Linked DNA regions of Homo sapiens. The protein of the gene in region 3 purifies or fractionates together with the protein of the main gene of each other region. This does not show direct contact. Each region holds a gene or a part of one and is shown on either strand. Other genes may lie near its edges.

The links.
Region 1: the proteins of NOM1 (region 3) and LUC7L purify together in Homo sapiens (affinity purification with mass spectrometry; one large-scale study listed by BioGRID and IntAct). This does not show direct contact.
Region 2: the proteins of NOM1 (region 3) and ZFP91 purify together in Homo sapiens (affinity purification with mass spectrometry; one large-scale study listed by BioGRID and IntAct). This does not show direct contact.

Annotation. Positions count from the first base shown.
Region 1 is NC_000016.10:205,331-208,982, forward strand, and holds part of LUC7L (putative RNA-binding protein Luc7-like 1), read right to left. Parts: intron 3,335-3,652; exon of another isoform or gene 3,271-3,334; intron 2,859-3,270; coding exon 2,748-2,858; intron 818-2,747; coding exon 674-817; intron 1-673. UniProt on the Homo sapiens protein: May bind to RNA via its Arg/Ser-rich domain.
Region 2 is NC_000011.10:58,610,063-58,613,714, reverse strand, and holds part of ZFP91 (E3 ubiquitin-protein ligase ZFP91), read right to left. Parts: intron 3,418-3,652; coding exon 3,381-3,417; intron 2,766-3,380; coding exon 2,661-2,765; intron 2,112-2,660; coding exon 1,977-2,111; intron 1,438-1,976; coding exon 1,387-1,437; intron 954-1,386; coding exon 875-953; intron 1-874. UniProt on the Homo sapiens protein: Atypical E3 ubiquitin-protein ligase that mediates 'Lys-63'-linked ubiquitination of MAP3K14/NIK, leading to stabilize and activate MAP3K14/NIK. It thereby acts as an activator of the non-canonical NF-kappa-B2/NFKB2 pathway.
Region 3 is NC_000007.14:156,952,639-156,956,290, forward strand, and holds part of NOM1 (nucleolar MIF4G domain-containing protein 1), read left to right. Parts: intron 1-1,464; coding exon 1,465-1,660; intron 1,661-3,652. UniProt on the Homo sapiens protein: Plays a role in targeting PPP1CA to the nucleolus.

The DNA.
Region 1 (3,652 bases), on a different chromosome or scaffold from region 3:
ACAAATGTTACCTTTTCATAATAGACTTGTGTATATTTTATGGCAGTAAATAAAAGACTAGTATCCTCATATATTTTATGTATTCATGACATACCTAACATTTTCTGCAGACTTTGGGTGATAATGACAAGTCAACGTAGACCCACTGACTGTGGGCAGATGCTAGGAATGGAGGAGGCTGTCTGAGGAGAGGGTACATGGAGAATCTCTGTACTTTCCTCTCAATTTAGCTATGAAGCTAAAACTGCTTGCAAAAACAGCGTTTATAAATTTTTTTGAGACAGAGTCTCGCTCTGTCGCCCAGGCTGGAGTGCAGTGGCGCAATCTCAGCTCACTGCAAGCTCCGCCTCCCGGGTTCACGCCATTCTCCTTCCTCAGCCTCCGGAGCAGCTGGGACTACAGGTGCCTGGCGCCATGCCCGGCTAATTTTTTTGTATTTTTAGTAGAGACGGGGATTCGCTGTGTTAGCCAGGATGGTCTTATCTCCTGACCTCGTGATCCGCCCGCCTCGGCCTTCCAAAGTGCTGGGATGACAGGCGTGAGCCACTGTGCTGGGCCCAAAATGTATAAATTTTTTAAAAAATGGGAGCAAGCATGGGCTCAATTAATTCCAACGGTCAACGCTGCCAAATTACTAAGATTTCTCTTGCCCTAAGGCACTTATCTCACCAACCTCAGCTTCTTTTTTCTTCGCACGAACTTTTTCCACTTCCATAAGAATCTTCTGGGATTCATCCACATTACCTTCAGCCCCTAGCTGTTCGGCTTTAGCAAGGAGTTTTCCTATTTCTTCATTTAACTCATGTACTTTTTCTGCCTGTGAGGAGAAAGAATGAGGTAAGCAGACATCTGAAAATGAAAGTGAATGCAAAGGCAACAAGGGTTTCTCCTGCTCCATTTCCAGTCTGAAAATAAGTGGAAGAGCTAAAGATCCACACTTAACAATGAAGGCATCCTTACTGCCAGCATTGAGACTGTAACCATAAACGAGTCCTATGTTCCAATGAAACCAGTGGCACCTTTGTCACTTCCGACATGCTTCCAAGGATCATCACAGATTGGTCATTGTCTAGGCTGTCTCTCTTTATGACTTTTTCTTCTGGGTATGGTAATAAAATGCCTAGGTTTAAATGTACAGATTTAAGCTGTAACCAAAATACCTAATTACTAGGATTTACCTTCTGAAACAAAATAGCACCGTTGGTCAAATTAGCAATTGCATAAATCCTAAGAAATGCTTTTACAACACTGAAAAGAAAAAACAAGGAGAGGCTTAGTTCCACTGAAGAGAAAAACAGAAGAGTGATGTAAATGGCACTCAGTCTAATTACATATAAATCTACCTCCTTTTCATTCTATGATATGGATGTACCACAGTTTGACCATTTCCTTACCAATTCTTTCCAGTTTTATGTGGAGATATTAAAGTTTAAAACAACATGCAGAGGCTGGGCATGCTGGCTCACACCTGTAATCCCAGCACTTCGGGAGGACAAGGCGGGAGGATTGCTTAAGCCCAAGAGTTCCAGACCAGCTTGGGCAACAGACTCCATCTTTATTAAAAAAAAAAAAAAAAAAAAAAAAGATGGCTGGGTGCAGTGGCTCATGCCTGTAATCCCAGTACTTTGGGAAAACGAGGCGGGCAGATCACGAGGTCAAGAGATCGAGACCATCCTGGCTAACACAGTGAAACCCCGTCTCTACTAAAAATACAAAAAATTAGCTGGGCGTGGTGGTGGGCACCTGTAGTCCCAGCTACTCAGGAGGCTGAGGCAGGAGAATGGCGTAAACCCAGGAGGCGGAGCTTGCAGTGAGTCGAGATCACGCCACTGCCCTCCAGCCTGGGCGACAGAACAAGACTCTGTCTCTTAAAAAAAAAAAAAAACCGACAATAATTTTTTTTTCTTTTGAGGCAGGGTCTCACTCTGTTATCCAGGCTGAAGCAAAGTAGCATGATCACAGCTCATTGAAGCCTCAATCTCCCCAAGCTCAAGTGATCCTCCCACCTCAGCCTCCTGAGTAACTGGGATACACATGTGCACCACCAAGCCTGGCTAATATATGTATTTTTTGTAGAGATGGGGTTTCTTCATGTTGCTCAGGTCTAAAACTCCTGGGCTCAAGCAGTCTGCCCCCACCTTGGTGTCCCAAAGTGCTGGGACTACAAGCATAAGCCACCAAACTCAGCGAAGAATATATTAAAATTAAAAAATAATGATAAACCATGTACAGAGGACGAAAATGGAGAGAATAAAAAGACAGAGGTAGCAGCTCCTGAGGGATGAGAATTCCATGACACATGAATGCTTGATCACAGCCCTCTATCCTTAACTGGAGTAAGGCAGAGAGTACTGTCCACACAATCAGTGCTGAGGGTCAGTTAATAGCTATTGACAACGCCGGGCGCGGTGGCTCACGCCTGTAATCCCAGCACTTTGGGAGGCTGAGGCAGGCAGATCACGAGGTCAGGAGATCAAGACCATACCGGCTAACACGGTGAAACCCCGTCTCTACTAAAAATACAAAAAATTAGCCGGGCATGGTGGCGGGCGTCTGCAGTCCCAGCTACTCGGGAGGCTGAGGCAGGAGAATGGCATGAACCCGGGAGGCGGAGCTTGCACTGAGCTGAGATCATGCCACTGCACTCCAGCCTGGGTGACAGAGGGAGACTCCATCTCAAAAAAAAAAGCTATTGACAAGCCAGTATTTTTAAGAACACACCAGACACCGAAGCCACCCAAGCATACCTTTGCAGAAACTTCCGCACTGATTTCCTCCTGTGTTTCTGCCAGCCGCTTCTTGGCGAGCTCAGTTCTCCGATCACATTCAGCAATAAAGGACTCCAAGTGATCCATTGCCTAGCACGGGAAAAGCACAGCGCTATAATCAATGATGTGTAAAGCGTAAAGTCTTAGAACCCATTTGCTTGATAGGAAATACACTCCTAGGTTCGTTTCTTTAAAGCCTGTACATTCAAGGGAAAGATCTTAAACTACACTACCACTAACGCATTCATAATTGCATTAAATCAAGGGGATCTGTTAAACAGAATGATTGTTTGGAAGCATGGTCTTCTCATTTGATTTACTTATTTCCAAAATTTGTAAAAGGACCTCCAACCCTCAATAACATTACAAAGAAATTCTGAGGAAAATTAAAACACTTGGCAGCAATTCATAGAGTTCTCGGAGGGACAGAAAAGGCTGAGCCTAGACTCGTGCTGGAGGCCCTCTTCTGGGGAGTTGTGAGAGATGCATATGATGTACTCACTGGTCTTTGTGAGCCACGTAAATATTATTCCCTCATGTTCTGAGGGTAGGGTCCCCCCTTTCACCTCAAAAACAAAACAATAGAACAAATATTACTGAGAGCTATGAATACATTTTGTTATTGCCTACTATCTAAAGTAGCAGGAAAAATTGGTTGCTATTTACCCAAAGAGATAAAGGAAAAGAAGCTGTAGACGTCAAATTGCTTACTCTGAAAAGGGTGGTGGGAAACATTAAGAGAACTATCATATGCTAAGGTTAATTCACCATAACTAGGCAAAGGCTAACATAATTTCAGATAAAAACAGAGACAGGACCGGACGCAGTGGCTCACACCTGTAATCCCAGCACTTTGTGAGGCCAAGGTGGGCGGATCATGAGGT
Region 2 (3,652 bases), on a different chromosome or scaffold from region 3:
ATAATAATCTACTCAAGAAAAATAAAAACAAAACCTCAACTAAAAGTCTTTTATTCATTCTACACAGTACCCAAGAAATCACAGGTTTGAGTTCTAATTTTACTTTTTTTCTAAATCACTTTAAAATAAAATGTTACTCTGTATTTACACCACATTGGGAATTACTGTAATATTGAAAGATTCCAACGAAAGTTCTCTATGTGGGTTCAGATTCTTAGTCACCTCTTTTTAAACAGGAGGTGCTATGAATTTGGATGTGTTCACCACAGTTCATGTGTTGGAAACTTAATCCCCAATGTGATAGTGTTGGAAGGCGGGACCTAATGGGAGGTGCTTAGGTCTTAAAGGCTCTACCCTTATATAAATGGGTTGATATTATCATTGGAGTAGATTTGTTACAAAAGCAAGTTCAACCCATTCTTGCCCTTCCACCATGGGCTGACACAGTTAAAAGGCTCTTGTGAGATGTGGGCACCATGCTTTTGGACTTTCCAGTCTCCAGAACCACAAGCTAATAAATAAATATATGTTCTTTGTAAATTACCCAGTCTCAGGTACTCTATTATAGCAGCACAAATGGACTAATCATGATTAACCCATTTATGCTGGAGGTTGCAAATGTATTTTTGTGAAAAATCAGACCTTGGTGATGACCTTGAACAGTAGGATATAAATAACTTGCCCAAGCTTAGCATTCTAATAATGGAACACTAGGCATAAATGGGTTAAAGTCATTTTATGTTTAAAGAAAGACTTTTCTTGACATTACATGTCAATGATAAAGCCTACACAAGCCAACAAATTAAAGTCTCGTGGTGCAAGAACAAGTAATGGAACACAACCTGAAAGGCTCTTATATAACAACTTCACTGACCTGCAAATAGCGAGGATGGGCAAGGACAGTTCCACATCCTTCCATCTCACAACGGACATACTGGATTGGAGGCTTTTTTCTATTATCAAAATGCAGAAGAAAAGTTAGCAAAAAAAAAAAAGTGGTACTCTGCACAGTGGCCTCTGACTTAAACTGTGCTATTGGGAATAGCTATTTTATAGTAGGAAGAATTAAAATCTCTTTACTACTATACAGATTACACAGAATTTGTATTAGAAGTAACCAAGAATTAGCAAATATTTGACAGAATTAAAAAGTAACACAAATAAACTAATGACCCCCCAAAGGTAAAGTATTAAGATTGTTAGAAATTTCAAGCTCTTACAATGAAAATAAGATCATAACACCTGTGCATCTAGGACATTAGTGAAGTTGCTTTTGTGAAATTTTTAAATAGCCATTCCTGCAGGATTATCATGAAGTCTAAATTTGTGAGTAAAGTGCCTGGTACTGGAATAAGGTGTAAAACAGTAGGGGTAAAAATTCCTCACCTCCTTTTGGGTAAACGTGGACTTTTGTCATCTTTTCGTCTTCTTCCTCTCCTGTAATTGAAGACAGGGTAACAGTAGACATATTCTGAATCAAAACTACACAGTGAAGGCTGGCTGAAGACACACACACACACACACGGCCAAAGAACAAGTGGCAAAGGATAACCAAGAATACATAAAGTCAAAGATATATCTGGCAAATCAAGCAAGTAATTTTACCCTGAAGTAATTTCACTTTCAAATCAGTCTGTAAGACAGATTAAATATATACCTTCCATAAACTATGCAATACTATGAAAGACTTAGAAGAATCTCAATGTATTACTTTTAGAGTTGCTACCATGTATCATCTAAAAACACTAAGATTAAAAAATACCTTCTCCTTGCAATAGAACTGAAAAACCTAAACATTTTTTTACTAAGAGTCTCTCCAGTGAAATTGTCAGCTGCTTGAGGCCAAATTTTTTTAAGTTAAAAAATACATATTTTGAAGCATGTATACGTCAACATCCTTCCTCACACTCCCACTCTTTTTTCCACTAGTCGTTCAAAATCTGTTAGATTTTCATTTTTAATAATTGCCTACTCACTTCCTTGGAGGTTCCTCATCCTCTCTAATTTCATTCTCCTCTTCTTTCACCTCCACCTCTACTTCCACTTTAATTTCCTTCTTCTCCTTCTCTTCTTTTACCTTCCCTGATTTTCTCCGTGGCTTTGGGGTTTCCCTGAAAACACAAATGCATTTCAATACTAGACAAAAGATCTTTTCAAGGAAGACTATGACAACAAATTAAAGCTTAGAGTTATCACTGATTTGTTATAAAACTACCTTCCTCAGTTCATGAAATGTGATTTCCTACCAATCATCCTCACATGCATAGTAATGATCCAAATATATGTATATGTTGCTCATGGAATGAACCCTCCCCAGACTAAAGATGCCTGTAAATCAAATTTCACTATAATTGTAAAGAGAAACGAGACAATTAGTTAAAAAATTCTAAGTATTCAGGCAATTCATGATACCTTGTTGAAATAAAACATGCAGACTCATAAAAACTTGTATATAATCAAAATAAAGTTCTACAAATGGGAAAGAGGATTATTATCAGGGTATATTAAGGTGTTAGACTTACAAAAGAAGTGCATAATTAATTACTCATTTAAAATTAATTCTATACCCATTAGCTTGGCAACAGATAAAATAAAAGCATGCAACAGTGCTTTCCTACTTATATTTCATTAACATGTCTGCAGTAAAATCTGAGACATGCCTTTCTAAGTGGGGTTTGTAGGTCTCATCTCTTGGATCATCTTTGAATGGTATCTCCTCTTCACTGATTAACATCTCTTCTTCCTCCTCCTCTTCCTCTTCACTACTAAAAATAAGTAAATAGAAATGAGACATTCTGGTTGTAGCGAACATGTCTGAGGGGATTTTATTTGGTAATTTTTTAAGAGGTAGCCAAACACTGATAAAGTCATCTAGCATTTTCATCCTAATGACCTAATTGGACTGAAATCTAGCTGTTTTATCACAAAGAATAATAATTGAAACTAAAAAGACATAAATCCTAGATAAAGACAGGGTGATGACAACTCAATGGCATTAAAAGTTAAGAAACAACTGACTTTGTAATACTGTCTGGTGATCTGCTATATTAAAAGACCTACTAACAGATAAATCACAACACAAAAGATTCCAATAAAATCTCAAAACCTTGGCCAAAACACCCATATTTCACATTAGTGCCTACCATGGAATAAGTCCAAACACAGAAGATACTCAAGACATGATTTCTAAGCTATGTAAGTAGATTACATGGTTTAAGTTCTAATCAAGCTCAACATGGAATCTAAATGCAGTATCAAAACTGAAGTTAATTTCTCTTACAGCTCAAAATAATTTCAAATGGAAGCAACTTCTGAATCATTTACTGTGACTATGCTATGTCCCCAAAGGTTTAAAAATGAAATATTAATGTTTTTTTTACCTAATGCCACCTGGAGACTGATGCTCTTCTCCAACATCTAGAAAAACAAAGCCAAAAACAAAATTTTATTAGTGTAGATATAAGATATTTTCTCTCTGCAGTCAAGAAATGCAAATCAAATTACTGCATGGGGTAATTATACAAAAGCAGAATATCTGCAAACTGTTCAAAGAAATACCACCTACACCATCAAACCTGCCCCTGACAGTTAAGCTGTTAACACAAATGTTCAACATTACATTTAAAATGTAACAGCAACTAGTTAGTAAACA
Region 3 (3,652 bases):
TTGTCTGTTTCCTAAAATGTAGGAATTATCCCAGCAATTCAAATAGAAGTGATGGGGACAGTCGATTGGATCCTTTCTGTTCTTGGCTTGATGCACCGAGACCCATGAGACCCATACCTCGAGAAGGAGAGGATACCCGACTGTTGGCTACTTTGAATCCCTTTAGGGTTTGAGAGCAGCCCAAATGCTCACATTGTTATTCTGAGAAGCAGGAAGGAAAGGGGCAGAGGTTCTTTGTCCGTCTAAGGACAGTGTTGGAAGGACTGGCTTATGTCCCCTCTCTGCAGAAACACATTCACCTGGTCTTCCATCCCCCTTACTCATTGCTCATGTCTGCATTTTGTTGTTACCCACTTTAAGAACAGAACATTTAAAAAACTGATTGGAAACCATACAGGTGGGGCTTTGTCAGTTACACGTGCCCATCAGCTCTTTGGTTTTGAGGATGTGTGTGTGCATGTGATTCTGTGTAGGTTTTTTTGTTTTGTTTTGTTTTGTTTTGAGATGGAGTTTTTGCTCTTGCTGCACTGGCTGGAGTGCAATGGCGCTATCTCGGCTCACTGCAACCTCTGCCTCCACCTCCCAGGTTCAAGCAGTTCTCCTGCCTCAGCCTCCTGAGTAGCTGGGATTACAGGCATGCGCCACCACGCCAACTAGTTTTGTATTTTTAGTAGAGACGGGATTTCTCCATGTAGGTCAGGCTGGTCTCAAACTCCCGACCTCAGGTGATCCGCCCGCCTCAGCCTCCGAAAGTGCTGGGATTACAGGCATGAGTCACCGCACCGGGGCAGTTCTGTAGTTTTATCACATGAAGATTCGAGTCACCACCGCTGCAATTGAGATAAAACTCACCACCATCTCTCCCCTGCTGCCCCTCCATGGCCTCACCCACCCCCTTCCCCCTTGTATTGCTTTTTGTTTCCTGTTATCCTGGGAATTTATATAAACCTCTGTTTCAGTGTCGAGTTCAGTATTAGCACAGGTTCACAGTGAGTAACCTTCCACGTACATATGTGTGTAGTGTCCCCACTACCCGTTCAAACAGAGCAGCCTTTTCTAGTGTTAGGAACTAAGGATTTTTGTGCCACCTAAGAAATAAAACGTTAGCATTTTTTCTAACAACACGTCCTAAGGCTGGACCCTGCCTATGGGATATCAGGTCAGAATATTCAGGGGAGTATCCTCACGTATGTTTCTGTAGACTTAATCCAGGGTATGCCTCAGTGTGGCCACATTTCATCTTGTAAAGACAGCAATTACATTGTTTTGGGATTCCAGAATATTATCTGGTTATGAATAATATATGCTGGGTTATTGGGGCAAGATAAGAATAGTTAAGGGGTCAAAAGTGTACATAAAAATAGAATATATTGTTGGTATGGATAACTCTTTAATTTTTTAAAATTGAACTGAAAATTCCTAATTGGAAACATTGTTGCTCTCTGTCTTTACAATTCTCTGCAGGTTGAGTGAACCCAACATGGCTTCCATCAGTGGGCAGCTGGAGGAACTGTACATGGCCCACAGCAGAAAGGACATGAATGACACCCTGACCTCCGCTCTCATGGGTGCCTGCGTCACTGCCTCGGCCATGCCCAGCAGACTGATGATGGAGCATGTTCTCTTAGTCAGCATCCTTCACCACACAGTTGGAATCGAGGTACAGTTGTACCTTTTCTCCAGGCTGTCACTAGTGTCTCATGGTGATTATTTTAATGATAGGCTTGATAAGTGCGTAATTGTGTGCTGTGGGTGGTTCTTGTGTCGATTCCTTTTTGTTGTGAATAAATACTCTATTGTCTATGTCATGTAGTTGTAAAGAGCATTCAGGAAGTACTTGATTACTTGATTTTGCTTAACTTTGCTTTTTTGTTCTGTCCATTCTTTTTTTTTTTTTTTTTTTTGAGACAGGGTCTCGCTCTGTCGTCTAGGCTGGAGTGCAGTGGCACGATCACAGCTGCAGACTCGAGTGATCCTCCCACCTCATCCTCCAGAGTAGCTGGAACTGCAGGCGCACACCACCAGGCCTGGCTAATTGTTTTGGTGGGAGCAGAAGTGGAGTCTCACTCTGTTGCCCAGGCTGGTGTCAAATTCCTGGGCTCCAGTGATCCTCCTGCTTTGGCGTCCCAATGTGTTGGGATTACAGGCGGGAGCTGCCATGCCCAGCCCTGTTCTGTCCAGCCTAGCATGTCTTTTATGTTAGTTAATTTTCTTCTCGACTGACATCTCAGACGTGCCTTCATTTCCTTTGCACTTCTCCCTTAACACTGATTTATTTCAGATGTTTGGAAGATAATGGTTGGTGTGGTCTCACTACTGAGGTGTTGGTATTGATGGGAGATGTGAGAGCACTGGGGCATGGAACTGCCTGGACATGTTCAGGGAGACCTGGTGCCCTTTCTGTGTCATGGCCCTTTCTCATCAGTGAAGTGGGCTTTTGTTGGGATTGAACTGAACAGTGTACAGAAAGCATCTGGCACCCGACAGGTGCTAAGTAAATGTCCACCCCACCCCCACATCCCTTTCGTATTCTTCTTGCTCCACAACCCTTGTGGTTAAAGTCAGAGAGGCTCTTTGGTGATGGCCTTGGTTCCACAGTCACTGCCCTCTTCTGGGCCTGTTCTCTCTTAATTGAATACAGGAAAGTCATAACACTCCCAGTCAGTATCCCAGTTCCCCCAAGGTAGCTGATTTCAGATGTGTTGAAGTAAATCCGTCCAACTAAAGGAGATTGTTGTGAGGTTGGTGAACGAATGGAGGGTTGGGTCAGTGAGGCTTAGTTTTCCCGTGATACAGTATTTACATGCAAATGCAGTGTTTAACCCATTTGGATCTTTAAATGATAGTCTCTTTTAATGGTGGTTCTCTTAGTTTTTTGCCTTCTGACAGCTCTACTCCAAAAAATAGGCCACAGCAGCACAGCATCCCTAAAAGTCTAATTACCTGGTGTACGTTTATATACTTTCGTCTCCTCCTCACCTTTAATCCTAAAGTGTCCCGGTGAGATCAGGGCAGACCTTTACTGAAGCTTGCTTTGCAGTGCAGCAGGCAAAGCCGCTGAAGCGCTATGTGAAATTCCCAAGATCACGTCTTGTTAAAAGTACACAGAACTTGTTTTCTGGGCTCCTAGGCAAGCATGCTTTCTACTGCAATGCTAGTCACATTCATTTCATTTTTATATTACTTTCTCTCAATTATAATCTTAACAGTTATTTAGAGTCTTACCAAGTGGGGCTCTCCAAAGCTTGCTTTAAGATGCACATATTTGCCGGCCGGGCGCGGTGGCTCACTCGTGTAATCCCAGCACTTTGGGAGGCCGAGGCGGGTGGATCACGAGGTCAGGAGATCGAGACCAGCCTGGCCAAAAAGGTGAAACCCCGTCTCTACTAAAAATACAAAAAAAAATTAGCCAGGCATGGTGGCGGGCGCCTGAAGTCCCAGCTACTCCGGAGACTGAGGCAGGAGAATGGCGTGAACCCAGCAGGCGGAGTTTGCAGTGAGCCGAGATCGCGTCACTGCACTCCAGCCTGGGTGACAGAGCGAGACTCAGTCTCAAAAAAAAAAAAAAGATGCACGGATTTGCCAAAATGAAGTAGCCTTCTTGTCACTGGGGCTTCTGTGCTGAAGGCGGCATGGGGTGGGTGGAGATGCT